Linked DNA regions of Homo sapiens. The protein of the gene in region 1 interacts with the protein of each later gene in a biochemical or structural test. Each region holds a gene or a part of one and is shown on either strand. Other genes may lie near its edges.

What was found.
Region 2: the proteins of BRF1 (region 1) and RLIM form a complex in vitro, tested with the Homo sapiens proteins (one study listed by BioGRID).

Annotation. Positions count from the first base shown.
Region 1 is NC_000014.9:105,295,830-105,312,381, forward strand, and holds the start of BRF1 (transcription factor IIIB 90 kDa subunit), read right to left. Parts: upstream 5,173-16,552; 5' UTR 4,801-5,172; coding exon 4,617-4,800; intron 1-4,616.
Region 2 is NC_000023.11:74,574,729-74,590,624, reverse strand, and holds the end of RLIM (E3 ubiquitin-protein ligase RLIM), read left to right. Parts: 3' UTR 1-7,649; downstream 7,650-15,896. UniProt on the Homo sapiens protein: E3 ubiquitin-protein ligase.

The DNA.
Region 1 (16,552 bases):
GAACTTTCAGGGGCCAAGGCAGGTGTATCACTTGAGATTAGAAGTTCAAGACCAGCCTCACCAACATGGTGAAACCCCATCTCTACTACAAATACAAAAACCAGCCGGGTATGGTAGTGGGCTCCTATGTAATCCCAGCTACTCAGGAGGCTGAGGCAGGAGAATCGCTTGAACCCAGGAGGGGGAGGTTGCAGTGAGCCCAGATTGCGCCACTGCACTCCAGCCTGGGCAACAGAGCGACACTCTATCTCAAAAAAAAAAAAAAAAAAAAAACTCAAGGAGTGTATTAAAAACTCTTAGGGGCCAGGTGTGGTGGCTCACACCTGTAATCCCAGCACTTTGGGAGGCCAAGGCGGGTGGATCGCCTGGCCAACATGGCAAAACCCCATCTCTACTAAAAATACAAAAACTGCGGCCGGGTGCAACAGCTCACACCTGTAATCCCAGGACTTTGGGAGGCCGAGGTGGGCGGATCACGAGGTCAGGAGATTGAGACCATCCATGTAACCCCGCCTCTGCTAAAAATACAAAAAATTAGCCGGGCGTGGTGCTGGGCGCCTGTAATCCCAGCTACTTGGGAGGCTCAGGCAGGAGAATGGCATGAACCTGGGAGGCAGAGCTTACAGTGAGCCGAGATTGTGCCACTGGACTCCAGCCTGGGTGACAGAGCAAGACGCCGTCTCAAAAAAAAAAACAAAAAACTTAGCTGGGTGCGGTGGCGGGTGCCTGTGATCCCAGCTACTTGGGAGGCTGAGGCAGGAGAATCTCTTGAACCTGGGAGGCGGAGATTGCAGTGAGCCAAGATGGTGCCACTGCACTCCAGCCTGGGCAACAAGAGCAAGACACCAGCTCAAAAAAAAAGAAAAAAAAAAAAAAACCTCTTAGAACAAGTAAGTTTAGCAAAGCCATAGGAAACAGGACAACACACAGAAATCAACCATATTTATATAAACAAGCAATGAAGAGTTGAAAACTAAATTAAAAAAATTCCACTTATAATAACTCCTAATAGAGCTTAGGTACACATCTAAAAAATGTCCAGAGGGCCAGGCACGGCAGCTCATGCCTATAATTCCAGCACTTTGAGAGGCTGAAGTGGGGGGGGATCACTTGAGGTCAGGAGTTCGAGACCAGCCTGGCCAACATGGTGAAACCCTGTCTCTACTAAAAATACAAAAATTAGCCAGGCGTGGTGGTGGGCTCCTGTAATCACAGCTACTTGGGAGGCTGAGGCACGAGAATCGCTTGAACCCAAGAGGCAGAGGTTGCAGTGAGCCGAGGTTGCACCACTGCACTCCAGCCTGAGTGACAGAGCGAGACTCCATCTCAAAAAAAAAGTCCAGAAGCTGTATGCTGAAAACTACCCAACACTGACAGACTATATCAAAGAAAATCTAAATGAATGCAAACATACACTGTGTTCCATGGACTACAAGATTCAACATAGAAAAAATGTCAGCTGGGCACAGTGGCTCCCACCTGTAATCCCAGCACTTTGGGAGGCCGAAGAGGGCGGATCACGAGGTCAGGAGTTCGAGACCAGCCTGGCCAATGTGGTGAAACCCCGTCTCTACTAAAAAATATACAAAAATTAGCTGGGTGTGGTGGCGTGTGCCTGCAGTCCCAGCTACTCAGAAGGCTGAGGCAGCAGAATCACTTGAACTCGGGAGGCGGAGGGTGCAGTGAGCTCAGATCGCGCCACTGCACTTCAGCGTGGGTGACAGGGTGAGACTCTGTCTCAAAAAAAGAGAAAGAAAGAAAAAATGTCAGCTCTCCCTAAATATATCAAGAGGTTTAATGCAATTCCAATGAAAACCCCACCAGGACTTTTGTACAGGTTGAACATCCCAAATCCAAAAATCTGAGATTATAAATGCTCCAAAACGGCCCGGTGCAGTGGCTCACGCTGGTAAACCCAGCACTTTGGGAGGCTGAGGCAGGTGGATCACGAGGTCAGGAGATCGAAACCATCCCGGCTAACACGGTGAAACCCCGTCTCTACTAAAAATACAAAAAATTAGCCGGGCGTGGTGGCGGTCGCCTGTAGTCCCAGCTACTTGGGAGGCTGAGGCAGGAGAATGGCGTGAAGCCAGGAGGCGGAGCTTGCAGTGAGCCGAGATAGTGCCACTGCACTCCAGCATGGGCAGCAAAGCGAGACTCCGTCTCAAGAAAAAAATAAAATAAAAAATAAATGCTCCAAAACATGAAACTTTTTGAGTATCAACACGATGCTCAAAGGAAATGCTCACTGGAGCATCTCAGATTTCAGATTTTTCGATTAGGGATGCTTAACCAGTAATTATAATGCAGATATTCCAAAATCAGAAAACTCTGGTATCCAAAACACTTCTGGTCCCAAGCATTTCAGGTAAGAATATGTGACCTGCAGAGATGCACAAACTTACTCTAAAATTAAAAAGAGAAAGGGAAATTAATAGCCACAACAACTTTGAAAAGGAAGAACAAAGGTTGAGGGACTCACAATATCTGATTTCAGGACAATATAACAGGTATAGTAAAAAAGCGTGTGATGCTGACAAAGGAAAACGGCACCTGATCAACAGGGCAGGACACAAGGCCCAGAGACAGACCTGCACGGACGGGGCCCAGTGAGCACAGCCGAGGGAGCAAAGGCCTTCAGTCTTTCAACAAACGGTGTTGAAACAAGGGGACCTCCAGATAAACAATGAGCCTCAGCCTACAAAGCACACCTTATACAAAACATAGATGGACCACAGATTTAGGCCAGGTGCGGTGGCTCGCGCCTGTAATCCCAGCACTTTGGGAGGCTGAGGCAGGCGGATCACTTGAGGTCAGGTGTTCAAGACCAGCCTGACGAACAGGGTGAAACCCTGTCTCTACTAAAAATACAAAAATTAGCCAAGTGAGGTGGCGCACGCCTGTAATCCCAGGTACTTGGGAGGCTGAGGCACGAGAATCACTTGAACCTGGGAGGCAGAGGTTGCAGTGAAACGAGATTGTGCCACTGCACTCCAGCCTGGGCCACAGAGCAAGATTCTGTCTCAAAAAAAAAAAAAAAGTTAAAACTTCTGCTTTGAGGCCGTGCGCAGTGGCTCACGCCTGTAATCCCAGCACTTTGGGAGGCCGAGGTAGGCGGATCACGAGGTCAGGAGATCGAGACCATCCTGGCTATCACAGTGAAACCCCGTCTCCACTAAAAAATACAAAAAAAATTAGCCGGGCATGGTAGTGGGCTCCTGTAGTCCCAGCTACTCGGGAGGCTGAGGCAGGAGAATGGCGTGAGCCTGGGAGGCAGAGCTTGCAGTGAGCCGAGATCGAGCCACTGCACTCCAGCCTGGGCAACAGAGCAAGACTCCATCTCAAAAGAAAAAAAACTTCTGCTTTGAAAATCACATATACAACAAAGGGCTTGTAACTACAATCCACAAAGAACTCCCAAAACTCAACAATAAGAAAACAACCCAAATAAAAAATGAGAGTCAGGGTGTGGTGGCTCACGCTGTAATCCCAGCAATTCGGGAGGCCAAGGCTGGAGTATCACTTGAGCCCAGGAGTTTGAGACCAGCCTGGGCAACATAGAGACCTTGTCTCTACTAAAAATAAAATAAAATAAATGATCACAGCATGGTGGCATGCACCTGTAGTCTCAGCTACTCAGGAGGTTGAGGCAGGAGAATTGCCTGAGCCTAGGAGTTCAAGGCTGCAGAGAGCCATGACTGGGCCATTGCACACCAGCCTGGGCCACAGAGTGAGATCCTGTCTCGAGATAAATAAAAAAATAAGACTTGAGCACACATTTCAACAAAGAGGATTCGGGCATGGCAAATAAGCACCCTAATAAGGTTGAACATCACTAGCCAGTAGAGAAATACAGAATACCACTATGATGAGATGCCACACACCTGTTAGAACAACCGAAATAAAAACATCGACAACACCAAGTGCTGGTGAAGATGTGGGGCAACTGGTGAGAATGCATAATGGCACAGCCACATCACAAAACAGTTCATGACAGTTTCCCATAGAGTTACACATACAGCTAAGTTCCCCAGAGAAATGAAAACGTATGTTCACACAGAGAGCTGCAAATGAATCCTTTTAGCAGCTCTATTCACAACCACCTGAAACTGGCCACAGTCCAGCTCCTTCCACAGGCTGGGGTCCATCCCCAGCCCGCAATACTGCCCATCACTGAAACGTCCCCTCCGAGGCCTGCAGCAGCCTGAGTGGCCCTAGGGCATCCGCCCGGTAACCACCAAGGCCAAGGGCAGCAGCAATCGGATTCTAAGTACCAGACATTGCTGAAAACAAAACTGCAGGCACAGAGAGTGACAGTGAGGGGCAGCTTGAGGGGCCTTCTGGGCTCCCCAGGCTCTCTTCAACCCTCCCTGTGCTGGCTGCCCTGGCCCACGCGTGTGTCGAGGAAGTCCACGCACGCCACGGGGGTCCACAGGCGCGCGAAGAAGGTCTACATTCTCGCCAAGGGGATCCACACTCGCGCCCAGACGGCGCAGAACCGCGCGCCCCGACAGAGCGTGCGGTACCGAGGCGCTGGTCCCGGCCGCGCCGTCACCGCCTCCAGCCCGCCTAAGCCGCACCGAGAAATCCGCGCAGCGCCAGCCCGCGGGACTCACCGTCCAGGGACACGAACTGGCCCACGGCCGAGGAGCCGCCGCCGCTGCTCTCCACGAACTGCACCTCGGACACGATGATGTTGTCCTCCAGCACTGAGCCGCAGGCGGTGCACACCGCGTCCCCGCGCGCCGCGTCCAGCTCGATGTCCGTGCCGCCGCAACCGCGGCACACGCGGCCCGTCATGCCGGCGACCGCGCGGGCAGCGCCCGGAGCCTCCCAAGACTCTCAAGCCACCCGAGCCTCCGGAGCAGCCCGCGCCGCCCGCCCAGGCCCAGCCGCCCAGGCCTCGCCGCTCTCGCGAGGCCCCGCTCCAGCCGATTCGCAGCCGCAGATTCGCCGCGCGCGCCCGGGCCGCGCCGCCCGCAACGGCCGCGCCCGCGGGATGGGACAGGCACCGGGACCACGGCGGGGACGCGAGGACTGGAGCCGCGACCTCCCCACTGCGAGCGAGCTGGCCTCCCTTGCGGCGCGCCGGCGTCGGAGGGGCGACCTGCGGGGGCTGGGCTTCGGCGGAACCCGAGCGGGGCCTACCGGTGAGCGCAGCCGAGGACTGGCGCTTGGGGGCGGGGCCACGGCGGTGAGCGCAGCCCGGGACTGGAGTTTGGGGCGGGGCCTCGTCGGTGGGCGACACCGGGGACTAGAGCTAAGGGTGGGGCCTCGCGGTGAGTGCAGCCGGGGACGGGACCCAAGGCTGGCGACGGGACCCAAGGCTGGCGACGCGACCTAAGGCAGTGGGCGGGCCCTTGGCGATGAACGCAGTCGGGGACTAAAGCTGGACGCGGGGCAGAGGAGGGTCCTCCTCGGATAGTGAGCGCGGTCTCCAGCGGCGAGCGAGGCCTGGGGTGAGGACTCAGCCGGATGCGGGGCTGAGGGTGGGGGGCGGGGCCTCCCGTGGAGAGACGGCCTGCGAAGGGAACTGGAGCTGTGGGCGGGGGAAGGGGGCGGAGCCTGGGTCTGGACCCGAACTGTGGGCGGGGCTTGAGGCGAGGGGGCCGAGCGTGGTGGGCGGGGCCTTGGCTCCTGAGGGCGACCTGGGACCCAACCCCGGGCTCTGGGAGTGGTGGGCGGGGCCAGGGCAGCTGCGCTGGGGGGCCTGGCCGCAGAGGTGGAGACACCCGCCAGGGGCCACCCTGCCCCGCCCTCCGCATTTGCGGCGTCCGCCGCTCCGCTCGCCCAGGTTCCAGAGCCTCCCCGTGCGCCCCGCTATTCTCCGTTTTCTGTTCCCCTAAAATTCCCACTTTCTAGCAGTCATTCGTGGCCACCTGTGGTTACCCGTGAGTCACCTCGCTGTGCCCCCTGCCCAGAGCGGGAACCCTGGCTGCGCACGCCCTCAAATATCTGCAGGTGCTGTTCACAATCGCCATAGGGCCGGTGACATACCCAGGAATGAGCCTAAAAAGAAATGCGTAACCAGGCGTAGTGGCTCACGCTTGTAATCCCAGCACTTTGGGAGGCCAAGGCAGGCGGATCACGTAAGGTGAGGAGTTCGAGACCAGCCTGGCCAACATGGCGAAACCCCGTCTCCACTAAAAATACAAAAAAATTAGCCAGGCTTGGTGGTGGGCGCCTGTAATCCCAGCTACTCGCGAGTCTGAGACAGGAGAACCACTTGAACCTGAGAGGTGGAGGTTGCAGTGAGCTGAGATCCCGCCATTGCACTCCAGCCTGGGTGACGGGTGACAAGAGTGAAACTCTGTCTCAAAAAAAAAAAAGAGAAAAAAGGAAATGCGGAAGACCCCACCCTCTTTTTTTTCTTTCTTTTTTTTTTTTTTTTGAGACGGAGTCTCTGCTCTGTTGCCCAGGCTGGAGTGCAGTGGTGAGATATCGGCTCACTGCAACCTCTGCCTCCTGGGTTTAAGCGATTCTCCTCTCTCAGCCTCCCGAGTAGCTGGGATTACAGGTATGCACCACCACACCTGGCTAATTTTGTATTTTTAGTAGAGACGGGGTTTCTCCATGTTGGTCAGGCCAGTCTTGAACTCCCGACCTCAGGTGATCCGCCCACTTCAGCCTCCCAAAGTGCTGGGATTACAGGCATGAGCCACCGTGCATGGCCCTATTTCATTAATTTCTGCTCTCATTTTTGTTAGATCCTTCTTTCCACTTAATTTGGTTCAATGTGTTCCCTTTTTCTAGTTTCTTCATTTTTTAAAAATTGAGATAGTGTCTCATTCTGTCACCCAAGGTGGAGTGCAGTAGCATAATCAAGCCTCACTGCAGACTCTACCTCCTGGGCTCAGGTGATCCTCCCACCTCAGCCTCCCGAGTAGCTGGAACTACAGGCATGTGCCACCACACCCAGATAATATTTTTTGTAGAGATGGGTTTTTGCCTCATTTGCCCAGGCTGGTCTGGAACTCCTGGGCTCAAGTGAGCCACCCGCCTTGTCTTCCCAAAGTGCTGGGATTACAGGCATGAGCCACTGCTCCCCGCCCTGTCCTCCCAAAGTGCTGGGATTACAGGCATGAGCCACTGCTCCCCGCCCTTTCTCTAGTTCTTTTTTTTTTTTGAGATAGAGAACACCCAGGCTGGAGTTCAGTGGTGCCATCTCAGCTCACTGCAACTTCCACCTCCCAGGTTCAAGTGATTCTGTCACTTCAGCCTCCCAAGTAGCTGGAATTACAGGCATGTGCCACCACGCCCAGCTAATTTTTGTATTTTTAGTAGAGATGGGGTTTCACCATGTTGGCTAGGCTGGTCCCAAACTCCTGACCTCAAGTGATCCACCTGTCTTGGTCTCCCAAAGTGTTGAGATTCTACACGTGAGCCAATGCACCCGGCCCCTTTTTCTAGTTTTTGTTTTGTTTTGTTTTTTGAGGTGGAGTCTCGCTCTGTCACCCAGGCTGGAATGCAGTGGTGCGATCTTGGCTCACTGTAACCTCCACCTCCCGGGTTCATGCCATTCTCCTGCCTCAGCCTCCCAAGTAGCTGGGACTACAGGTGCCCACCACCATGCCTGGCTAATTTTTTGTATTTTTAGTAGAGACAGGGTTTCACTGTGTTAGCCAGGATGGTCTTGATCTCCTGACCTCGTGATCCACCTGTCTCGCCCTCCCAAAGTGCTGGGACTATGGGCGTGAGCCATCGCGCCTGGCCTTTTCCTAGTTTTTTAAGGTGAAAGATGAAATCATTGATTTAAGATCTCTTTTCCTTTATAAATAGGCATTTTATTGCTATAATTCTCCCTGTAATTACCACTTTAGCTGAATCCTGCACATTTCAATGTGCTGTGTTTTCATTTTCATTCAGCTCAAGATTGTCTCCACTCTTAATTTCCTCCCGGATCCAAGGGTTATTAGGAAGTGTATTGTTTTGTTTCTAAATGTTGGGGATTTTTCAAATATGTATTATTGATCTCTATGCAAAATGCTCTCTGTCCATGATGACATTTCATCCTTATGGCAACACTAGCTTGCAGACACTGTTGTCTCCATTTTATGGAGGGAGCCCTTGAGGATGTGAGGGGTGACAGCCCCAAATCTCATAGCCAGTAGGTAACAAAGCCAGAATCCAATCTGAGGCCATGTGGCCACTGGATCCTTGCTCTCACCTGACAGACTAGAGGGGTTATTTCGTGTGCTCCCTCACCAAAGCCTGTGAGGTGCCTGCAGGTGCAAGGGGCAGCATGCCTCCCAGGCCACAGCGGTGCAGGACAGTCAGGCAGTACAGGACAGTCAGGCTGTACAGGACAGGATTGGCCAGAGGAGCAGAGGGTGGGGAAGACCACACCCACAACGGTAAGAGGTTTAAAGGGTGTGGTTTCAGCCAGGCTCGGTGGCTCAGGACTGTAATCCCAGCACTTTGGGAGGCTGAGGAGGGCAGATCACGAGGTCAAGAGATCAAGACCGTCCTGGCCAACATGGTGAAACCCATCTTTCCAAAAAATACAAAAATTAGCAGGTGTGATGGTGGGCGCCTGTAGTTCCAGCTACTCGGGAGGCTGAGGCAGGAGAATTGCTTGAACCTGGGAGGCGGGAGTTGTGGTGAGGCGAGATGGCGTCATTGCACTTCAGCCTGGACGACAAGAGTGAAACTCCATCTCACAATAAATAAAATAAAATAAAATAAAATATAAAAAAGGGTGAGGCTCTACTGGGCAATGGCCCAAGGTGCGTGCTGCCAGAACTAAGCCTTTGCTCAGATGGGCTGCAGAGGAGGGGTGCTATGGTCTGAATGTGCATTGTATCAGTCTGTTTTCACACTGCTGATAAAGACATACGTGAGACTGGGCGATTAACAAACAAAAGAGGTTTATTGGACCTGTAGTTCCACGTGGCTGCAGAGGCCTCACAATCATGGAGGAAGGCAAGGAGGAGCAAGTCACGTCTTACGTGGATGGCAGCAGGGAGAGAGAGAGCTTCTGCAGGGAAACTCCCTCTTATAAAACCGTCAGATCTCGTGAGACTTATTCGCAATCACAAGAACAGCACGGGAAAGACCTGCCCCCATGATTCAATTCCCTCCCACCAGGTCCCTCCACAATATGTGGGAATTCAAGATGAGATCTGGGTGGGTACACAGAGCCAAATCATATCATGTGTGTTCCCCCAAAGTCCATATGTTGACGTCCTTGCCCCAAGGCGATGGTTTTAGAGAGGTGGGGCCTTTGGGAGATGAGGTCATGAGGGCTGCTTCCCTCATGAGCGGGATTAATGCCCTCAGAAAAGTGGCTGGCTGGGCACAGTGGCTCACATCTGTGATCTCAGCACTTTGGGAGGCTGAGGAGGGAGGATTGCTTGAGTCCAGGAGTTTGAGACCAGCCTAAGCAACATGGCAAAACCCTGACTCTACAAAAACTACAAAAACTTAGCCGGTTGTGGTAGCATGTGTCTGTAGTCCCAGCTACTTGGGAGGCTGAGGTAGGAGGATTGCTTGAGCCCAGAAAGTTGAGGCTGCAGTGAGCTGAGATCACACCACTCCACTCCAGCCTGGGCGACAGATTGAGAACCTGTCTCAAAGAAAAAAGAAACAAGAAAAAAGAAAAAACGTGGCTGGAGGGAGCTTGTCTGCTGCTTCCCCCATGTGAGGATGCAGGAAGAGGGCACTGTCTATGAACCAGGAAGTGGCCCTCACCAGACACGGCATCTGCCAGCACCGTCCTGTGAAATGAATAGTGGTTTATAAGCCACTTGGACTGTGGTGGTTTGCCATTGCAGTGTGAACCAACTGAGGCAGGGAGTAACGCTCCCCACGTGATGTGAAGGCATAAAGAATGGAGCCAGGTTAGAGGGAGAATGCGGAGAACTGCCCTGGGGACCGGTTAGGTGCCCCATGCTGCAAGCGCCCCAGGAAGCTTGGAAACATTTAGGACTGACTGACAAGCTCAAAGAGTCAAGCAAGGGCGGCCAAGGGGCACCAGTGCCCTCAGAGCACCCACACTGGGCACCCAGCACCAGCTTCCTGTGCCCAGGGTCCTCTGTACTCCTCATTCAGCCCTGCAAGGCAGGACCCTCACTCGCACCGCGCCAAAGAGGACGCTGGAAACGTGCAGTGATCTCCGCTCTGGCTGTAAACAGGGAGAGGCTGTGGGCTTGCCCCTAGACCTGACTCCAGCACACAGCAGCAGAGCGGGGCCCAGGCTGGGGGTGTGGGGCAGGAACATTCCTTCATGGGGGCCCCAGAGAGCTGGAAAGTAATGTAGGTGTTGCACTGAAATGAGAGAATTGCTTTAATCTGAACTGAACGTGCTCGTAACACTTAGACCAGGAAGGATTTCCTTTTCTCAGGGCCTGAGAAAAATGACCTGACCAGCAGGGTTAGAGTTTTGAAGGACACGCCTAGGCACCTGCAAACTTCCCCTCCTGGAGGCTTTCTTCATTCATGGTGTCTTTTGTTTTTGGGTTTGTTTTGTTTTGTTTTGTTTTGTTTTGTTTTTGAGACACAGTCTTGCTCTGTCCCCCAGGCTGGAGTGCAGCGGCGCCATCTCGACTCAGTGCAACCTCTGCCTCCCAGGTTCAAGCGATTCTCCTGCCTCAGCCTCCCGATTAGCTGGGATTACAGGTGCATGCCACCATGCCCGGCTAATTTTTTGTATTTTTAGTAGAGATGGGGTTTCACCATGTTGGCCAGGATGGCCTCGATCTCCTGACCTCGTGATCTGCCCACCTCAACCTCCCAAAGTGCTGGGATTATAGGCATGAGCCACCACACCTGGCCTGTTTTTTGGGGGTTTTTTTTGAGACTGAGTCTCGCTGTGTCGCCCAGGCTGTAGTGCAATGGCACGATCTTGATGTACCGCAATCTCTACCTCCCGGGTTCAAGCAATTCTCCTGCCTCAGCCTCCCAAGTAGCTAGGATTACAGGCACCTGCCACTGCGCCCAGCTAATTTTTGTATTTTTAGTAGAGTCAGGGTTCCATCATGTTGGCCAGGCTCGTCTTGAATTCCTGACCTCAAATGATCCATCTGCCTTGGCCTCCCAAAGTGCTGGGATTACAGGCGTGAGCCACCGTGCCAAGCCCCATCGTGTTCTCATCTGTGGTGCTTTGACATCTTGGGGTCTCGTGGACCTAGAGAGGGACTCCCCTCCCAGGGTTAGCTAATTCCTAGAGACAGCTGACCACTTGCCTCTGAGTATGCCTTATTTACTTTATTTTTTCTTTTTTTCTTTTTTTTTTGAGGCAGGGTCTCACTCTGTCACCCAGGCTGGAGTGCAGTGGTATGATCATAGCTCACTGTCGTCTCAAACTGCTGGGCTCAAGAGATCCTTTGGCCCCAGCCTCCCAAAGTACTGAGATCCCAGGCTTGAGCCACCGTGCAGGCTGAGCATACCTTTGATATGCAGAGCAACCATCATGAGTCCCACCTGCCTCCTTTCATCAGGCTCCTGCATTCCTGAACACTAGCCCCCTGCCCTAAATCACCCCAAGGCCAGGTACCAGCTAGCTAGATACCACCCCCAAGCCCAGAGCCCACTGAAATGACCCAGTTCTAATTCTGCTCAGCTTGCCTCCTCTGCCTTGCCTGGAAAATGGCAATAAAGGCTCTTGCCCACCCTTTCCCTTCACCCCCTCCCTGTCCTGACTGGCCCTGGGTGCTTCCCCACGTGCCCCTCCTCCTGGGAACTGTGAGTAATAAACTCCTCTTTCAAAGGCGGTTGTCTCTGTGTCTGTCATCTTATCACATTTGATCAAAATAACTCCTGGGTACTCAATAGCCCTGTCCCCCCATGCAGCAGTCAGCAGGGGAAATGAGAAAGCAAGCTTCTATGGCCTTCTCACCTTCTCACCTGCTGCCTGGCCTTGGGCAAGTGCTTCAATCTCTCTAGGTTTCTACTTCCTCATCTGCATAACAGGGATAAGAATAGCCCACCCTAGCACTGCGGAGTATGATGGAGGACATGTGTCTGGTAGACAGACTGCTCAGAAGGCAAGTCCCTGTTCCTGTCTGTTCTCCGCAACTCGAGTGAGACTTGGTGAGGCTCCAGTCCACCTTCCACCACAGAAGTCAAGGGCCAGGCCAGGACAGTGGCTCACGCCTGTCATCCCAGCACTTTGGGAGGCAGAGGTGGGAGGATAGCTTGAGCCCAGGAGTTCGAGACCAGCCTGGGCAACAAAGTGAGATCCCTGTCTCTACAAAAAATTTAAAAATTAGCTGTGCGTGGTGGTGCGTGCCTCTAGTTCAGCTACTTGGGAGGCTGAGGCAGGAGAATCGCTTGAACCCAGGTGACTGAGGCTGCAGTGAGTTATGATCACACCACAGCACTCCAGCCTGGACCATAGAGTGAGACTCTGTCCCCCCCAAAAAAACAATTAGGCCGGGCACAGTGGCTCACACCTGTTATCCCAGCACTTTGGGAGGCTGAGGTGAGAGGATTGATTGAGCCCAGGTGTTTGAGACCAGCCTGGGAAATATGGCAAAACAGCATCTCTAACAAAAATACAAAAATTAGCCAGGTGTGGTGGTACATGCCTGTGGTCCCAGCTACTCGGGAGGCTGAAGAGGGAGGATTGCCTGAGCCCAGGAGACAGAAGTTGCAGTGAGCTGAGATGGCACCATTGTACTCCAGCCTGGGCACGACAGAGGCAGATTCTGTCTTTTTTTTTTTTTTTTTTTGAGATGGAGTCTTGCTCTGTCGTCCGGGCTGGAGTGCAGTGGTGCAATCTTGGCTCACTGCAACCTCCGCCTCCTGGGTTCAAGTGATTCTCCTGCCTCAGCCTTCTGAGTAGCTGGGATTACAGGTATGAGCCACTGTGCCCAGCTAAGTTTTGCAGTTTTAGTAGAGACAGGGTTTCACCATGTTGGCCAGGCTGGTCTGGAACTCCTGACTTCATGATCCGCCTGCCTCAGCCCCCCAAAGTGCTGGGATTACAGGCATGAGCCACTGTGCCCAGCCATGACTTTGTCTCTAAATAAATAAATAATTTTTTAAAACCCTTAGGGACCCAGCACAGTGGTTCACACTTGTAATCCCAGCACTTTGAGAGGCTGAGGCAGGAGGATGGTTTGAGTCCAGGAGATCTGGCCTACAGTGAGCCATGATGGCACCACTGCACTCCAGCCTGGTTGACAGAGCAAGACCCTGTCAAGAAAACAAAAGAAAAAAAAAGAAAAAGACAAACAAAACCTAACAAAACCAGAAATCCATCCTGCACGAAGAGCACTGAGGTTGAGTGTTGGTTGACACGTGTTGCGGTAATTGCTGTTCTGATGTCTGTGAATGTCCTTGGCTGATTTCTGTATTAGGGCCTGGGTGTTTTCCTTTCTTTTCTAATATTTAAGTTATGTCCTGGCTTATTGTGATGATATTCTATTGTGGGAAAGAAAGAAGTGTTAAAATTTATGCATCAAGGTCCCTCTTAATCTTGGGGCTCAGGATAACCACAGTCAAGAGGGGAGAGTTTTATTCCTGAATCCAGGTCATGCTGTGTTCAACTTTACACCCTGATTTGTCACACAATCACATATCTGAGAATTTCCCCATGTTGCTAAAACTGAGGCAGCGTTCCGTTTTGCTGGTTATTCCACATCCCATGGGGTGGATGTGCCAGGGCAAGTTTTGTCATTTCCCCTGGACTGGACATTCCTTTCTGTAGGTGTTGCTGTTTGAAATATCTCACACACCTGGACCTGTGTCCCTGTTGACATTTCCAGTGTCACCTGCAGGATGCCATGGGATACCCATGAGCCCAGGCAAATCTCCCAAGACGCTGCCAAGCCACTCTGCAGAGCTGCTCTGGGTCCTGCCCCAGGTGCTGTGTGAGGGAGCTGCGCTGCCTGCGCCCAACCCAGGAGGGGAGCAGCGTGCAGGACACCGAGGATGTCATCACGACCTTAGGTCTGTATTAGGTCTAGATTAGCCTGCATTAAGGAGAAGGTGGTGATGTGTGTCTTTTTTTTTTTTTTTTTTTTTTTTTTTTAGACGGAGTCTCACTCTCTTGCCCAGGCAGGAGTGCAGTGGCACAATCTCGGCTCACTGCAAGCTCCGCCTCCTGGATTCAAGCAATTCTCCTGTCTCAGCCTCCCGACTAGCTGGGACTACAGGCGCCCGCCACCACACCCGACTAATTTTTGTATTTTTAGTAGAGACGGGGTTTCAGTGTATTGGTCAGGCTAGTTTTGAACTCCTGACCTGGAGATCCACCCGCCTCGGCCTCCCAAAGTGCTGGGATTACAGGTATGAGCCACCGCACCCAGCCATGTGCATCTTTTTATAATTTACAATTCGTGATAGTAGTGACAACTGTCTCACTTATTCTTTTGTGAATCTTTTGTAGCTTCTCTAACCATTTTCCACTGGGAATTTTTTAGTGGTCTTATGGACTTGTATGATTTCCTTTGATATTAAGAATGTTACCCTAGTGAGCCAGGCACAGTGGCTCACGCCTGTAATCCCAGCACTTTGGGAGGTCGAGGCGGGCGGATCATGAGGTCAGGAGATCAAGACCATCCTGGCTAACACGGTGAAACCCCGTCTCTAATAAAAATACAAAAAATTAGCCAGGCGTGGTGGCAGGCGCCTGTAGTCCCCCCTACTCAGGAGGCTGAGGCAGGAGAATGGCATGAACCCGGGAGGCAGAGCTTGCAGTGAGCTGAGATGGCACCACTGCACTCCAGCCTGGGCGACAGACAGAGCGAGACTCTGTCTCAAAAAAAAAAAAAAAAAAAAAAGAATGTTACCCTAGTGAAACATTCAGTATTCTTACAAAGATCATCCTCAATAGTTTGTTGCGTTGGGTGAGGGTTCCCTTTGCACGTTTGGTTTTTTCAGGACGGGGCGCAGCCCCAGCCAGATGGCGCCCGGCTCTCCAGCCAGCGGCAGCTCACCCTGCTGTGGTTTGATTTTCCCTACACAATTAATACATGTTCATCATGGAGAAAATAGGAGATAAAGATAAGCAAAAAGGAGAAACCAAATCAATGGAATCCCCATCACACAGAGATACTTTCTTAACACTTTGGATTAATTTGTATCCTATCAATATTTTTCTATACCTGAAAATAGGTGTTTTATATGTATAATCACTAACATGTAAATACATACTGCACATGGACATGCATTTTCACATACATTTTTGTTTTCTTGAGACAGAGTTTCACTCTTGTCACCCAGGCTGGAGTGCAGTGGCACAATCTTGGCTCAATGGAACCTCTGCCTGCTGGGTTCAAGCGATTCTCCTGCCTCAGCCTCCCGAGTAGCTGGGATTACAGGCGCGCACCATCATGCCCCACTAATTTTTTGTATTTTTAGTAGAGATGGGGTTTCACTATGTTGGCCAGGATGGTCACAAACTCCTGACCTCAGGTGATCCACCCACTTCGGCCTCCCAAAGTGCTAAGATTACAGGCATGAGCCACTGTGCCCGGCCTTTTTATTTTTATTTTTTGAGATGGAGCCTGGCTCTGTCCCCCAGACTGGAGTGCAGTGGTGTGATCCTGGTTCACTGCAACCTCCACCTCCTGGGTTCAAGTGATTCTCCCACCTCAGCTTCCCAAGTCACTGGGATCACAGATGCGCACCACCATGCCCAGGTACGTTTTTGTATTTTTGTTAGAGATGGGACTTTGCCATATTGCCCAAGCTGGTCTTGAACTCCTGAGGTCACGGGATCTGTGCGCTTTGGCCTCCCAAAGTGCTGGGATTACAGGTGTGAGCCCCTGCGACTGGCCTGTTTTTAGCTACTTTTAACTCACTATTTCTGCCAGCTGTAGAATATTCTATCAGGTTCTATCATGGCTCACCTAACCCTGTTCTACTCTACAACCCCGGGGTTGATTCCAGGCCTCACTCTCAGCAGTTGAGCTGCTCTAAGGGTGACCGTGGGAACTGTCCACAGGTGCGGCTGCGGGTGCAGCGATCTCAGCGGTCTTAGAGCTCTTGGCCATCCCCCACATGGCTTCCCAGAAAATGCCTCCAGGAGGAGGGCCCTGCTGTACCTTTTTTGTGACCATTCCTCCTCAGCCTCAGTCATGGCCATGTGCTCCAACCATGGGAGTGGATGCGGCAGGGCCTGTCTAGGGGTTCGGCAGTTCTGTCCCTCTGCCATAGCATGGGCTGGGCAGGGACCTGGCCACGTGGGGCTGCTTCCTCAGCCCAGCTCCTGGCAGGAGAAGGAGTAGGGGCGCTGTGGGCTGGAGCCGCCAACTGACCAGTGCTGGCCCTGGAGGAGGCCCCTCCCCCACTCCCCGACTTCAGCAGGGCCTGCTGTGTGTCTGTGTCATCTTAGCCCAGGCTGAGGAGATGAATGCGTTTCCAAGCAGCCCATGGTCCTGGCGCCCGACTGGAAAAGCCTGAGCCTTCACCCTAGGTGGAGGGACCTAGCGAAGCCAGGCGGACAGAGGAAAGGCCTCGGCCCATCCTGTCCCATGACTGGGGGTTGGGGCTTCGTCTTTTTAATACCAATGGAATCCTAGCCAAGCATTCAGAACCTTGAAGCTTTAACTTCTTAAATAATAATAACTCCCACAACCTCCGGGGACCCCGGGCAGCACGTGGT
Region 2 (15,896 bases), on another chromosome or scaffold:
ACACCAAACAAAGTACAAAGCTGCTTTTGTAAGTGTGTAGATGTCAAGAGCAGAACATATCTATAATATTTAATGTGTGAACAGCTACTGTGACATGCAAAGGAAAGGACAGTGCAGAATTAAACCGTGTTGAAGACCAGTGGAAATTGTATAATTTAACTTGGATTTAGGCAGGAAGTGAAATATGGGAGGAGTAAAGAAAACTGAAGAATTTAAAGTTTTCCTGAAGACAGTAATAATGCAGACACAAACTGGTTTCATATGGTGAGAGCAGCCACAGCAGCAGCTTGACCTGGTATTCTACCTGAGTAGATGAAGCAGAAGATCAGCAAGTTTGGCAGAGTTTTGGTTTAAGAAAAACAAACCACTACTACCTAGCACAAGTTAAATTTACAAGTCTGCTCCTCAAAAATGAAAAAATGGAGGAAAGAGACTATAAAACCACTTTTAGCATATGAATTGCAGTTGGTACACATGTGTGTGTTAATAGGAAAGTCTCGAATTTGTGTTGTTTTTGAGATTTGTCATTTAAGGTACCAGTGCACACTTGATCATATTTCATTACTATCTCTAACACAGTCCTAACATCTCAAATTTAAAGACCAGTTGAAGATTAAGGGATTTTTATCCTTTGTTGAAAGTCATGTTGGGTTATTTGAAATTCAAATTTTAATTGTGCTGCCCATATATGAAAATGAGACTGCTGACTCGCTATCTATGGACATGCACTTTATGTTGGTTTCTTAGTAGTAAGAGTAACTTCATGATAACCCCAGTCTTCTTGCCTAATTTCTTTTTTGAGACTAGCTGGGGTTAGGATTAGAATGACTATGGAGCAGATATTTGTTCTTCTGGGAAAAGCTTTAACAGGCCAAAATAGGGATTGAACTTGTCCTTGGCCTTTATCAAAGCAAGCTAGCTACCCAGACGTAGTCAAATACTCTACAAAATAAACAAGTCTGCTTTAGGAATTGTCTGGGTACCTTCACTGTTACCAACTTAGCTGTAAAGATTATTTCAAAGCTCACTCTTCCATGATTTCTTCTGGCTTTCAATCCTATCTAAGTATCAAGGAAATTAACTTGTAAATATGGTAGTTGTTTACTAAGGATATGTACTGCTCTTGCAAGGAAATAATGTCCAAACAAAGCTTCACTTATTTTTTTTAATATAAGCAGATTTCACTGTTTATGGCGCTTATGTAATACATTTTATCTTTTTAAAAATTTGTCCGTGTAAAAGTCAGGATTCCTTTATATTTGTGAGCCTCCTTTTCTCCTTTCCTAAGGATGTAATCTACAGTTTTCAGATCTGCAGGGTAGTCTTGATTGGCTAAAAACAAATCAATTTTCTTCTTGGCATAAAGTGTTTCATTATTATAGGGGTGTTCATTTTAAATAGTTTAAAAACAATTGCAGCACATTCTAAGCATAAGAGAAAGTTATTGACAACAGGTACCTTCCTAATCTCCCAAGACGTACTTACTCATTTGTGAAGTATTAAAGTAAGAGGTAACTCAAGCAGAATGCTGGCTATGAATGTAGATATTGAAGCTATTCATAAACACTGGAAATAGAATTTTAAGCTTTTAGCCTTCAGTGGAATGCACATATTGGACATGTGCATGTGAACACCTTTTTCAGTAGCACTCACGGATTTCCATTCGATTGTATAGAATGAATACAAGTGTTTTAGTGGAATTTGCTACTTAATTTTTAATCTTGCGATGTCCGTGATTATTACATGCTTACTAGTGTTGTGGACATTGAAGACAAGGTCATTCGTAGGTGTCAGATTACAATGGAGAACAAAAATCGTTTTCCCCCCACCCACATCCAAACACCATTCTCGAGGGAGCATTTCTTGCAAAACACCTTACATTTCATTTTCTATCTTTGCACTTTTTCTTAAGTACAGAAAAGTTGTCTTTAAGACCTAGTTTGAACTTCATGCAGTAAGAGGAACAAGGATAAACAATGTTGGGAGTTCACATTGTTCAGAGCATAAGGAAAAGTACCAAAACCCAAATTTTCTTGAATATTTCAGATGTTTTTAAAAACTCACTTCTAGTCTGAAACATTTGAATTGTTTTAACTCTGAGCAGCTGACAAAGTTGAGGTTTTTTTGTTTTGTTTTGTTTTGTTTTGTTTTTTTGAGACAGAGTCTTACTTGGTTGCCCAGGATGAAGTGCAATGGAGCGATCTCGGCTCACTGCAACCTCTGCCTCCTGGGTTCAAGCAATTCTCCTGTCTCAGCCTCTCGAGTAGCTGGGATTACAGGCGCATGCCACCACACCTGGCTAGTTTTTATATTTTTAGTAGAGATGGGGACTTCACCGTGTTGGCCAGGCTGGTCTTGAACTCCTGACCTCAAGTGATGTGCCTGCCTCGGCCTCCGAAAATGCTGGGATTACAGGCGTGAGCCACCATGTCCAGCCAAAGTTGAGGTTTATTAGTACTATTAGAAACAAAATTGAGCAAGTTAAGTTAAAAGTTTGCTGACTTTGTATCAACACTATAGAAGATGAGCCACCTTGTTAATTTGGAATATTTGCTCTGAAAAGAACATGTTAGTTACACCTTAATGGTGTTAATGGAGGTGGGGATTGAGAAAAGTGTTCACATTAGTGTTGGAATGTAGGTAATTGTACAGTTTATAAGACCTTTAGCACCAGGAAATAAAATATGTGTGTGTACACACACAGTTTTTAAAAACGATTGGAATTCATCCAAACCTTAAGATTAGGAAACTGATTGGCTGTAAGTGTTGCCTCAAGTAATGTGTCCCCCGCCCCATAACATGTCTTTTCTGTGCCAAGTATCCTCTCCTAGTGTCAGTGTCTCAAATTATATTTATGAAGGGTTATCACATAATATGCTTTGTATTTAACTACCTGCTTCCCAGGCGTCCATGACATGAAATGGGTGAAGCATCAGCCATGACTTTCGGTCAGTTCCCAAAATACCCAAATGATAGGGAGGTAAAGATTGCAAAATTCCTCTTAAAAGGCCATTTTTACAGCTTGCTAAAATACAGTGGCACCTTATGGTTGTTAATATTTTTTCTTTTAAAGATGGAGAATGTTTTTATTCTTCCCCTTTTCTCCTTTGTTCTTTTGCGAACAAAAAAAATTATAATCTGCCTTATTTGATTTTTTTTTTAAGTTTTACCTTACAGGCTTCCCTGTCACATGTTTTACCATATTAAGTACATAGAAGCCATGTTTGCAGGGCACTTTTATTCTCCTAGTCTTATAAGACTATGCTAATTGTTACTTTCTGAAGTATTCTGTACCTTAGTATGCAAGATTGTTAAGGCACATGTTAAAGTGTCAGGTGTGTTTTTTTCCCTTTAATTCTTCAGTATGTTTATATTCAATAACAGTATTGTAATTCATTGAGTTAACTAGTAAATTGTGTGCTTTTGAAAAAACATGAAAAATGTAAATTGACAGCATACTTCATTTGGAAAAAAGTAAAAGATCCGAGGAACTAGTATGTCACTTATTTATTTTTATTTTATTTTATTTTTTACTTTTTGAGACAGGGTCTTGCTCTGTCACCCAGGCTGGAGTGCAGTGGCATGGTCACAGCTCACTGCAGCCTTGACTTCCTGGGCTCAGGTGATTCTCCCACCTCAGCCTTCCAAGTAGCTGGGACTACAGGCATGCACCACATTGCCTGGCTAATTTTTTGTGGAGATGGGGTTTCGCCATGTTGTCCAGGCTGTTCTTGAACTCCTGGGCTCAGGCAATTTGCCTGCCTCATTCTCCCAAAGTGCTGGGATTATAGGCGTGAGCCACTGCGCCCAGCCTTACTTATTTTTAAATCAGATTTTTTAATCAACTAAAACAGCTATGAGTTAAGTACCTGCCCTGCAAAAATTTTTAGAAAAAGTTTTAGGATTATGAAATTAAGAATTATTTTCCTTAACTGGAACAGTTCTAAAATTTATCTGATACTTCTCTAACAAGTGAGTGATCTCATGTAACCCCAGTTTGTATCTTAAAGGCTGCAGCATAGAATTGAGCTGTATAACAGTGTTAGAACTGTCAAGTGATAATCACAGAACAGTTTGTATCGGTTTTATAATTCTCATGTCTTGATCAGATCTGAAGGAAATAGGCATACCCTCCAACATTCTAAAAATTATTTATTTTTATTAGGATTTGTTTATTAAAGTTCCACGAGCTGCTTTATGGTCAGTTGGGCTGAGTAGTAGATATCTTAAAGACATGCAGTGAAAGTGAACCCTGTCATATCATGGTGCCTCTTTCAAGGTTCCTCTGTAAGTTCCTCATCTTGCAGAATTATTTCAATACCAAGGTATGGTTGAACCAGCTGTCCAGCCTTAACTCTATTTAGTGCCCCATTACTAATGTTCTTTTAACTGGTTTGTATGTGTTTTAACTGTCCAGTGTTTGGATTTTACCTCTTGATAGCTCCATTTGTCCCTGGTGCTGCTTTTAAGGATGTAGGGCCATGTGATCAGGTATCAAGTTGAGTAGGTACGCAGTTGGCCTGGTGATGTATCTGTGCCTGTTTTATCTTCTCCCAGGAAGAGCTGCTTTGGTATAGTTGTTTACTTGGATTCATACAAAGAACAGGGCAGCAATCTTGGAAAGCTTTCTGAAGCTTATAAGAACCTGAAGGGGTTTGGAGGGGGAACAGTAACAAAGGCTGCCTTTATGTCTTTGGTCACAAAGCACATAGATGTATGTTCTGTAAAGACTAAAGTGATTGTTATACCAGGGCTTCCTGACCTTCGGGAGAGACTCAAAAAAGCAGAGAGGAGCACAAAGTGAAGTTAATTTGGTTGGCTTGCTTTATCTGGTTTCTCATTTTCTTTCAATTTAAACCTGAACATAACACCCTTCTCCGATACCTATCCAGCAGACTCCTGGTTGGGAAGCCCTGTATTAAATTTTGAGAATGTACACAGTTTTCTTTTGTACAGTGCTTTACAACTGCTAAAAGTTAACTTGTTTAAAGCAAAACAAGACCTTGAAAGGTCAATCATATTAAAGCTGGTTTGATTATTAATAGTTATCTTTTAGGAAGAAGCTTTTTTCCCTATGTAAGATGTCATACTGCAGATTTAAAATATAGACTATCAATAAAATGCATGAAGTGATCATTTGTGCTTGATCATCTCTCCTTGGGTTTTTCTTTAAAAAGGGGAATCTGCTATAAAGGTTCTGTTGCTTCAAACCAATGTCAAATAGACTTGATTTTTAGAGTCATGGAATTACAGTGCAACCTTGATTTTTATTCCCCTCACTGCTATGAGTGTGGGCAGGTACTGGTTTATATGTTATAACTTCCGTTTTATCTGTGTTGTGTAGTTGAATGGCTTAATCGTTGAGTGGTAAAATAAAAGATTATATTCCAATACAAGAATCCTGGAAAGATTTATGTGAATGACATTTTAAGTAGGCGCATCTTTGCTGTTTCTTGTATTCTCGCCATTGCTCTGACCACTCCCTTGCTTGCCCTGTATATATACAAAAACTTGTAGGTGTGCACGTGTGCTTGTACTTCTGTCTTCCATTTCTATCTTAATCTCTTAAACATATTGCTTAAGCCACTAAGATGTCCTTGTTTCAAGTAAATCGTCACATTGTGACACCTGGTGTATTGTATTATAGTTTCATTTCCTCTGGTGCCTGCAGAGCTATCTGTCATTGGCATCATAACTCGGTTTCTCAGGATAGTTTTGATGTAGTCAGCTCTTCAACTCATGACCTTCCCAAGGTTTTAAGTTTAGTGTCATTCATGATTTTATTATTTGAAACTCAATACCACCATCAAAAAGTTAGTGCTCTAGACAATGAAGCCAAAGCACAGGCATCTTAGGTCAGTGAAAAGGATCCAGACATAAATTAGCCAGGTGTGGTGGTACACAGCTGTGGTCCCAGCTACTTGGGAGGCTGAGGTGGTAGAATCACTTGAGCCCGGGAGGTCAAGGCTGCAGTGAGCCATGATCATGCTGATGCACTCCAGCCTGGGTTACAGAGCAAAACCTTGTCTCAAAAAAACCCCCAGATACCTAGAAGAAAGGATTCGATAAATCTGGGTGGATTATAAACTGAACTCTTAATGGTCATTTTAAAAAATAAGAAAGCAAGGGTCCAGTTTCTTTGAGGTCTTTGAATTTAGACAAGATTTAACTATAAGGCCTTGCATGGATTACTAACTATAATTAAATTAGCTAAACTTTTCTGGTTGCTGTCAGGCATTGTATTAAGTATTCTATATAAATTATTTAATCATCACAGTGACTGTGAGGTGAAAGTATACCACCCATTTTATAGGTAATGCAGCTGAGATACAGATGTTTGGTAATTTGCCCAGGTCACATAGTAAGTAGCAGATTATTTGCAATCATCTTTGATGCAGTCATCTTCCTTGTGCTCTTAATCCCACTACTATATGACTTCTAATTTGTTTCTTAGTATTTATCCCAAGCCCTAGACTAGATTGCTTATGAGGTGTGATTTCTTAGGAAAAACATCAGTTTTGGCTGGTTTGCCAAGAAAAAAAAAGGCCAAATTGGTTTTTGTTTATTTTTTTGTTTGTTTGAGATGGATTCTCGCCCTGTCGCCCAGGCTGGAGTGCAATGGTGCGATCTTGGCTCACTGCAACCTCTGCCTCTGGGTTCAAACGATTCTCCTGCCTCAGCCTCCCGAGTAGCTGGGATTACAGGCGCCCGCCACCACGCCCAGCTAATTTTTCTATTTTTAGTAGAGACAGGGTTTCACCATGTTGGCCAGGCTGGTCTTGAACCCCTGATCCCATGATCTGCCCGTCTCGGCCTCCCACAGTGGTGGTATTACAGGCGTGAGCCACCACGCCCGGCCGCAAATTGTTTTTTGTTTTTTTGTTTTTTGGAGGATTAATGGTAATATACTGTAAATTCAGTAAAGCACTGGGCATTACCAGATACACCTTAGCACTATGAATAACATGAACTATCATTTTAGCAGTTTAAGTGTACCTTGTAATCAGCCCTAGGGCAAACGGTATCAAGGTGTTTTATTTCCAGAAGTCTCAAAATAGACTGGAATAAAAATTTGGTGAATTCATCAACACAGACAATGGGTCCACGTCTTGCAGCTACAGCTGCTGCAGCTACTCCTGCTGTCCGCACCGTTCCACAGTATAAATATGCTGCGGGAGTTTGCAATCCTCAGCAACATCTTAATGCACAGCCACAAGTTACAGTGCAACAGCCTGCTATTCATGTACAAGGTCAGGAACCTTTGACTGTTTCCATGTTGGCATCTGCCCCTCAAGAGCAAAAGCAAATGTTGGGTGAATGGCTGTTTCCTCTTATTCAAGCCATGCACCCTACTCTTGCCGGTAAAATCACTGGCGTGTTGTTGGAGATTGATAATTCAGAACTTCTTCATATGCTCAAGTCTCCAGAGTCACTCCATTCTAAGGTTGATGAAGCTGTAGCTGTACTACAAGCCCACCAAGCTAAAGAGACTGCCCAGAAAGCAGTTAACAGTGCCACCGGTGTTCCAACTGTTTAAAATTGATCAGGGACCACGAAAAGAAACTTGTGCTTCACCAAAGAAAAATATCTAAACATCGAAAAACTTAAATATGGAAAAAAATATCAAAATATAAAAGAAGGAAACTGAACCGTATGTACCGAGCAAATGCCAGGTCTAGCAAACATAATGCTAGTCCTAGATTAATTGATTGAAAAACAAAAAACACAAAAAAAATAGTAAAATATAGAAACAAATTAGTGTTTTATAGACCCTGGGAAAAAGAATTTTCAGCAAAGTACAAAAATATAAAACATTCCTTTCTTTAATTTTGTAATTCTTTACTGTGGAATAGCTCAAAATGTCACTTCTGTTTTAAGTAACAGAATTAATAACTGAGCAAGGAAACGTAATTTGGATTATAAAATTCTTGCTTTAATAAAAATTCCTCTTTAACAGTGAAAACAAAAACAAAAATTGGGGAATTGTTAAATGGTCATCTCAGCCCCTTATTACGTGTGCTCTTGGCCCCAATTATGACAATTTGAAATATGAAATGACTAGAAAGATTCAAATTGCAGCTTTTTAAAAACTATGCCCTGCCGGGTGCAGTGGCTCACATCTGTAATCCCATCACTTTGGGAGGCCGAGGCAGGCAGACCACGAGGTCAAGAGATCGAGACCATCCTGGCCAGCATGGTGAAACCCCGCCTCTACTAAAAATACAAAAAGTAGCTGGATGTGGTGGCATGCGCCTGTAGTCCCAGCTACTCGGGAGGCTGAAGCAGGAAAATCGCTTGAACCTGGGAGGCGGAGGTTGCAGTGAGCCGAGATAGCGCCACTGCACTCCAGCCTGGTGACAGAGTGAGACTCCGTCTCAAACAAAAAATATATATATGTGTGTATATATATATATATGTATACGTGTGTGTGTATACACGTCTGTATATATACGTGTGTGTATATGTATATATATGCCAGCCAGCTTATTGGTATGCAAGAAAATGCACTTTAAGTTGCCTTGGGCAGCCATCAGCATTCCAAGAACTTTATTGCTGAGAAGATATTTGGAACTTGTTTAAATAGCTTTTAGAAACAACTTTATGAACCACTGCGAAAAGCAACCCTGTTTGATTTGTTCACACGCGGTAGGGTATGCCTGTAATCCCAGCTACTTGGGAGGCTGAGGCAGGAGAATCGCTTGAACCCAGGAGGCGGAGGTTGCAATGAGCTGAGATCATGCCACAGCACCCCAGCCTGGGAAACAGAGCAAGACTCTGTCTCAAAAACAAAAAATAGATAAAATAGTACCAAAACCTTAAGAAATGTACATACTGTAATTATCCATCTCCATTCAAATACGTTGTAACTGCTAGATCTAGTAGGTATTTGAGGAGTAAAAGTTCATGGGTGAATAAGGGCTCATCTGAATCTCATTTGTTTCCTCAGGAGATAAATGTGTATTCTGCTCCTACTATTAATACATCCTTGGCATTCTGCTGGTCTGTGGTTTCTCTTCCCTGTGTCTTAGGTAGGGTGGGGACCTGAAGTCTAAAATATCGCTGAGTTTCTCAGTGGACAGTGTTGGTGACTGTGGTGTACCTACTTTTTAAAATTCACAATTTGTCTTCTGTATGCACCAAATGCTCTAGAATAGCACTGTCCAGTAGAAATATAATGCATCACCACATATAATGTTAAATTTTCTAGCAGCCACATTACAAAAGGTAATGTGTAAAGATACTAATTTTAATAATGTTTTCATTTAACCCAGTAAATATTTAAACATGTAATCAATATAAAAATTTTTAGTGGGATATTTACATTTTTTTCATACTGAGTTTTCAAATTCTGGTGAGTATTTTACACCTATAATACATTTCAATTTGGACAAGGCACATTCCAAATGCTTAATAACCACAAGTGGCTAGTGACTACCATATTGAACAGTGCAGCTCTAGAACAATATGGAGGAATGTGATTAGGTAGGATGCAAATGGGGTTGACTTTTAAAAGTTCGCTTATGAATGTGCATAGGCACAACTTATCTGCTCAACTACACCACGCCAGAACTAAAGCCTCATTCTTTTAATTGTGCATCAAAGCTGTCCAAGCTTACAAAACTACCACCTTTCTCCTTCCCTTAAAAAAAATTATATTTTTTTGAGACAGAGTCTCACTCTTGCCCAGGCTGGCATGCAATGGTGTGATCTTGGCTCACTGCAACCTCCACCTCCTGGATTCAAGCAATCCTCCTGCTTCAGCCTCCCTAGTAGCTGGGACTACAGGCGTGTGCCACCACACTGGGCTAATTTTTGTATTTTTAGTAGAGACAGGGTGTCACCATGTTGGCCAGGCTGGACTCGGATTCCTGACTTCACGTAATCAACCCACCTTGGCTTCCTAAAGTTCTGGGATTACAGGCGTGAGCCACTGTGCCGGGTCCCCTTTTGCGGTTAAAAGAATACACTCCCAGCCTGGCGTGGTGGATCATGCCTGTAATCCCAGTACTTTGGGAGGCCGAGGCGGGTAGATCGTCTGAGGTCAGGAGTTTGAGACCAGCCTGGCCAGCATGGTGAAAATTCGTCTCTACTAAAGATACAAAAAAAAAAAAAAAAAATTAGCCGGGTGTGGTGGCGTGCACCTGTAATCCCAACTACTCGGGAAGCTGAGGCAGGAGAATTGCTTGAACCTGGGAGGCGGAGGGTACAGCAAGCGGAGACTGCGCCACTGTCCTCAAGCCTGGGCAACAGAGTGAGACTCCATCTCAAAAAAATAAATAAATACATACATACATACACTCCATACCAAAGTTTGAAATCTATTAAGAATTAGCAAAAGCGAAAGAACTTGGCTGGCTGAGGATCCTGTGATTAGAAGTTAGGAAAGCCCACCTCAACTGCAGCGTTATATAGCAGCCGATAAATAGCAGTTATATTTATTTATTGCAGGAATGAGCACCCAAACTTTTACATAGAGCTTCTCTTAGTTCAGTTCATAATATATGTTAAAATAATACAAATAAATAACTTCCAAGCAGTTCATCTGAAATAGCTGTATTTGAATATTCCTGGCATTTGTTAGGAACAGCTAACCTGGGTTTACCATCTGTTTCCACTTTGTAGTTAAGTATTAAGTGATAGCATATGTTTAAGTGAGTTTCAAGTTAGTTTTCTGGGGTGGAAGGAGAAAAGTTGACAATATGAGAATAAAGGCTACCAGATCAGAACGAAAGCAAGTATTTTCCAACACCAAGTCTCTAATGTCATTTCTGAAAGTGTGTTTTGTTTTGTTTTGTTTGGCAACATGGAGTGAAATATTAACAGTCCTCTGAAGAAAGAGCCTTTGGAGTTGAGGTTTTGGAGAAAGCTGATTCGTTTGACTTGGTTTGTACTTTCTGTGTGAGTGTAACATAACACTTTCTGTGGCCTTTTTAAGAATCTGAAAACCAGCTGGGCATGGTGGCTCATACCTATAATCCCAGCAATTTGGGAGGTCGAAGCAGGAGGGTCACTTGAGGCCAGGAGTTTGAGACCATCCTGGACAACATAGTGAGACCCTATCTCTATGTCAAACAAACAAAATAATCTGAAAACCTACTTGGTAGTAGAGGACAGATGTTGGTTTCTAGCGTGGGTGACTCCAACCTATCTGTAGTACATGAATCCAGCTGCTAACTTGGAAGATGCCAGAGAAGCACATCACTCAGCCTTTCTTTTTTCTTTTTATTTCTTTTTTTAATAATCTTGGGTGTAACCCCATCTAGATTGAAGGCAAGAATTCAGGAAAATTCATTCATTGTTTTGCCTTGGCCCTCCCCTTTCCTGGAAGAAAGAAAATAATGGAACAGTGTCTGTTGGCACGAAGGTACAAGATTGTTCCTAAAACAAGAGACCAACTCAGCAAGCAACTAAGCCCAAATTCTGCCCAATCGCTCTGATGGAAAAGAAACCTTCCCCTAATAATGAAGCTATCTTTTTTTTGCCTTGCTGCAGTAGGCACTGAGAAGTTATCTTCTTCAGCATCTGAATTAATCCCCTTTCCCCACTTTTGGGGACCAGAAGCATCTATATATTTAAACAGGAAAATCAGTCTAATCTGCTAAATAGAAATTACATTCCAAGCTTCATTTTAGTATAAGTGCTGTTTAATAGCCCTTGTATAGACATGGGCCCTGACTGAACCCTTTCTCTGTCTTTTAAAGACAGGTCAAAACCACCTGCAGAGAAAAAAAAGCTGGAGAGGACATTTTGTTCTTTGCTTCTATCCCACCCCAAGGTGTTCCCTTCAGTATTGTTATTGGTATGTTTGATTTTGTTTTGTTTTTTTTTTTTTTTTTTTGAGAGAGTCTCACTCTGTTGCCCAGGCTGGAGTGCAGTTTTGCGATCTTGGCTCACTGCAACCTCCACCTCTTGGGTTCAAGCGATTCTCATGCCTCAGCCTCCCAAATCACTGGGATTACAGGCCCACACCACCACATCAGGGTAATTTTTGTATTTTTAGTAGAGACGGGGTTTTGTCATGTTGGCCAGGCTGGTCTCGAACTCCTGACATCAGGTGATCCACCGGCCTCAGCCTCCCAAAGTGCTGGGATTACAGGCATGAGCCACCGCACCTTGCCGGTATGTTTGATTTTGAATACCTTATAGGTTAACTGCCCAGCATATATAAACTAGACCTGGCTTAGGCCTTATTTCCTGTTCAAAAATACCAGCTTATAAACCAAAGCCTAGAAATGAGTGGGCTAGGTTCCTGACTCTGACGTCTTTGTGGATGACTCAAATATCTACCTATAAGTGTTCCAAAGAGGTACCATGAGACTCACAAGAAAGTATACTGCAATTTATACCACCCACCCTCTCCAGTCACCACCACTCTACTACACACTCTTTGCTCCCACTGAAAGGTTAACATGAACTGCCAGTGTGGCCTTGAAAGGGAGGGGGAGATAGAGAGATGGTTACAGATTGATGAGTAGGTCATATACCAAAATATGTTGAATACTTACTAGCTGCCTGGCCTTTTTACATTTGTCCTCTTAATATGTTATTCATAACAATTTGGGGGCAATTGGATATTTGCATTTTATAACAGAATCAGAGGTTAAGTGACATGCTCCGGGTCCCACTGCCAGTATTGATCATTCAAGAAAATATTTTAGCTGGGCACAGTGGCTCATGCCTGTAATGGCAACACTTTGGGGGGCGAAAGTGGGAAAATTGCTTGACGCCAGGAGTTCAAGACCATCCTATGCCACATAGTGAGAGCCTGTCTTTACAAAAAAAAATACTAGGAATCTATGTCTCAAGCACTGTTCCAAGTACAAGGGGTACTGTGGTCAACAAGACCAAGACCCCTGCCATCATGGAGGTTACATTCTTTCTTTGTTTTTGTTTGTTTGTTTGTTTGTTTGTTTTTTGAGGCGGAGTCTCGCTCTGTCGCCCAGGCTGGAGTGCAATGGCGCTATCTCGGCTCACTGCAAGCTCCGCCTCCTGGGTTCACGCCATTCTCCTGCCTCAGCCTCCCGAGTAGCTGGGACTACAGGTGCCCGCCACCACACCTGGCTAATTTTTTGTATTTTTAGTAGAGACGGGGTTTCACTGTGTTAGCCAGGATGGTCTCGATCTCCTGACCTTGTGATCTGCCCACCTGAGCCTCCCAAAGCACTGGGATTACAGGCGTGAGCCATCACGCCCGGCAGAAGGTTACGTTCTAATAGGGATAGGCAGATAATATTTTTGTAAATACAAATTCAGATACTGCTTTAATGCTGGGAAGCAAAGTAGATGGGGTGATGTGATTGTGACTGAGATGTGATAGGGTGGTTGGAGAAGACCTGAGGAGGTGATCACAAGCTGAGACCTGAATGAATAGATGGAGGCAGAACCTTCCAACTCCAGGGAATGGACTCAGCTCATTATCTGGAAGGAGGAAAAGGGGCAGTGTTGAACTGGGGAAGCAGTACAAGTTAAGGCAGGGCCAGTTCATAAGGGTTGTATAGTCCAAGGAAGGGAGATAGAATTTCATTCTGAGATGAGAAGCTGTTGGAGAGTCTTAATGGTAGGAGTGAAGTGCTCTTACTTAAATACTACTAAGTGGCAAAATCAGGGCTAGAAGACAGATCTGACTAGGGCCACTGCATGACACCACAGCAGAAGACTTTCCCATACCTATCCTTTCCTTCCCCAGGTGGAAGTGCAGGGAAGCTGAGTACCCAGTACCCTGGAGACAGCTCTGCCTTGCTGTAGGCTTTTGACTTCTCTTTCCAGGTTTCCTTCCTTTCCTAAGAAACTCAGCTTGTGAGATTCATATAAACAGTGATGTGGCTCTTTGTGTTATTTTAGTCTAATCTGGTTTGAATGACCTTTTTTAAAAAAAAAATTAAGACAGGGTCTTGCCCTTTTGCCCAGGCTGCTCTCAAACTCCTGAGCTCAAGCAATCCTTCCACCTTGGCATCCCAAAGTGCTAGGATTACAGGCGTGAGCCACCACAGCCGACCTGAATTACCTTTTTCTGCCATCGCTGAGAAAATTAGCAGCTAGGACCCAATATCACAAATGAGACAAAACAAGCTTCTCCCTGATAACTGGGCCAGCATTGTTGTTTTGTTTCGCTAATAACTGTAGGGATAAGGGTTGCCCAGATAATGAAGAAAAGGGACAGCTGAGTTCTTAATTTTTTAAAGAGCTGATTACACAGATCCTTTTCATTAGATGCCACTTGGTGATTTCTTTACTTGTTAGTGATTTTACTGATGGGTAACCTAAATTCAACAAGTAAATTTAACATATATTTTGGAACAGCTAATATGCCCAGTCACCCAATCCAGCTGCCTAGATCCAGGCACGTCTACATTATAAGTCATCCTGAGACAATTGGTGGCAGGCAAATGGGAGACTGGATTAGCTGTTTCCAGTTATTGTGGGGATATGGGGTCCCAATCTTGGTGTCCAGGTTCTTAGTTCTGGGTTTCAGACATAGGTGCACAAGTTCTGGGGCAGCTGTGGGAGCTAAAGGAAAGACAATGACTAACTACAGCATAGAAGGCCAAGCTACATGGAAATTAGCTCCTTTTCTGCTTGTTTTGATAGCATACATTGTTTCTCTATTCTAGATAATTAGGTCCATCTTACAGTCCTACTTCATCTCTCTTTCATGCCACTAATTGTTGGGGTGAATCTGATGGTGATTTCATAGCCACATTCCCTCTGGATCCCAGCAAAGTCTAAGGATTTTTAGGGCTGCAGGTGAGTGTCCATGGAGCCTGACTCATCTGCAGAGGTGTCTTCTCAGCCTAAACAATAAGTTTTGGGAAGAGGCCCTAGTTCAATCGATGTGAAAACAGCTACTGGTTTTAACCTGGCCTCTTGAGTTGCTGTGATATGGGCTTTAGTCCTATTTAGGACACTCAGGAAAGTTAACTCCTGGGGGCTTCCCTGCTCAACCCCCCTCAAACTTCCCTCTATCTTTGTTCCTTCAAACAATCTATTCACCTGGAGATCCAACTGAATTATTAGAATGTGTCTGGATAAGGACACATGGCCCCAGGAACTTGTCTAAGAGGCAGTATAAGGGTCCAAGACCTTTACAGAAATGAGCAATAATCTATTCAGCAACTGGTCCATGGAGAGTTGAAATGGGGACCTAAATTTGTAGTGAAAAAGAATAAAGGTTTAAGAGCCAGTCAGGCTTAGATTCATAGTCCTTTTACAAGCTGTATCATTTTAGATAACACACTTACCTTCTCTGAGTCTCAGTTACTCCCAGTTCTGCAAAGTGGGAGTAATGATGCCTACTTTGTTGGGATGCTTAGAGATCACATATGTAAATTTCCTAACACTTTAATGGTAGAGACATTTTATTGAACTATAATTAATAAGGTAGAAAATTAGTACTACCCAGCATGGGAGGAGGTGGTTGGGCCAACCTCCAGTGGCTGTGAGGTTGTGATTTTCAGACATTTTTCAAAGACGAGTGTATAAACTGGGGCACCAGCTTCAATAAAGATGAAAACAAGCTCTACACAGTAGCTCACACCTGTAATTCCAGTGCTTCAGAGGAGGCCAAGGAAGAAGGATCACTTGAGGCCAGGAGTTCAAGACTAGCCTGGGCAGCATAGAAAGACCTTGTCTCTACAAAAAAATAAATAGCCCGGTGTGGTTGCACATCACATGTCTGTAATCCCAGCTACCTGGGAGGCTGAGGCAGAGGATCACTTGAGCCTAGAAGTTTGAGGCTGTAGTAAACTATGATCACACCACTGTACTCCAGCCTGGGCAACAAAGCAAGACCCTATCTCTTAAAAAAAAAAAAAAAAGATGAATACATTGGCCAATGATCTTTGGATACCCAAGAAATTCTACCAGGTTTGTGTGAAGATGACAGGCAAGGAGACAGA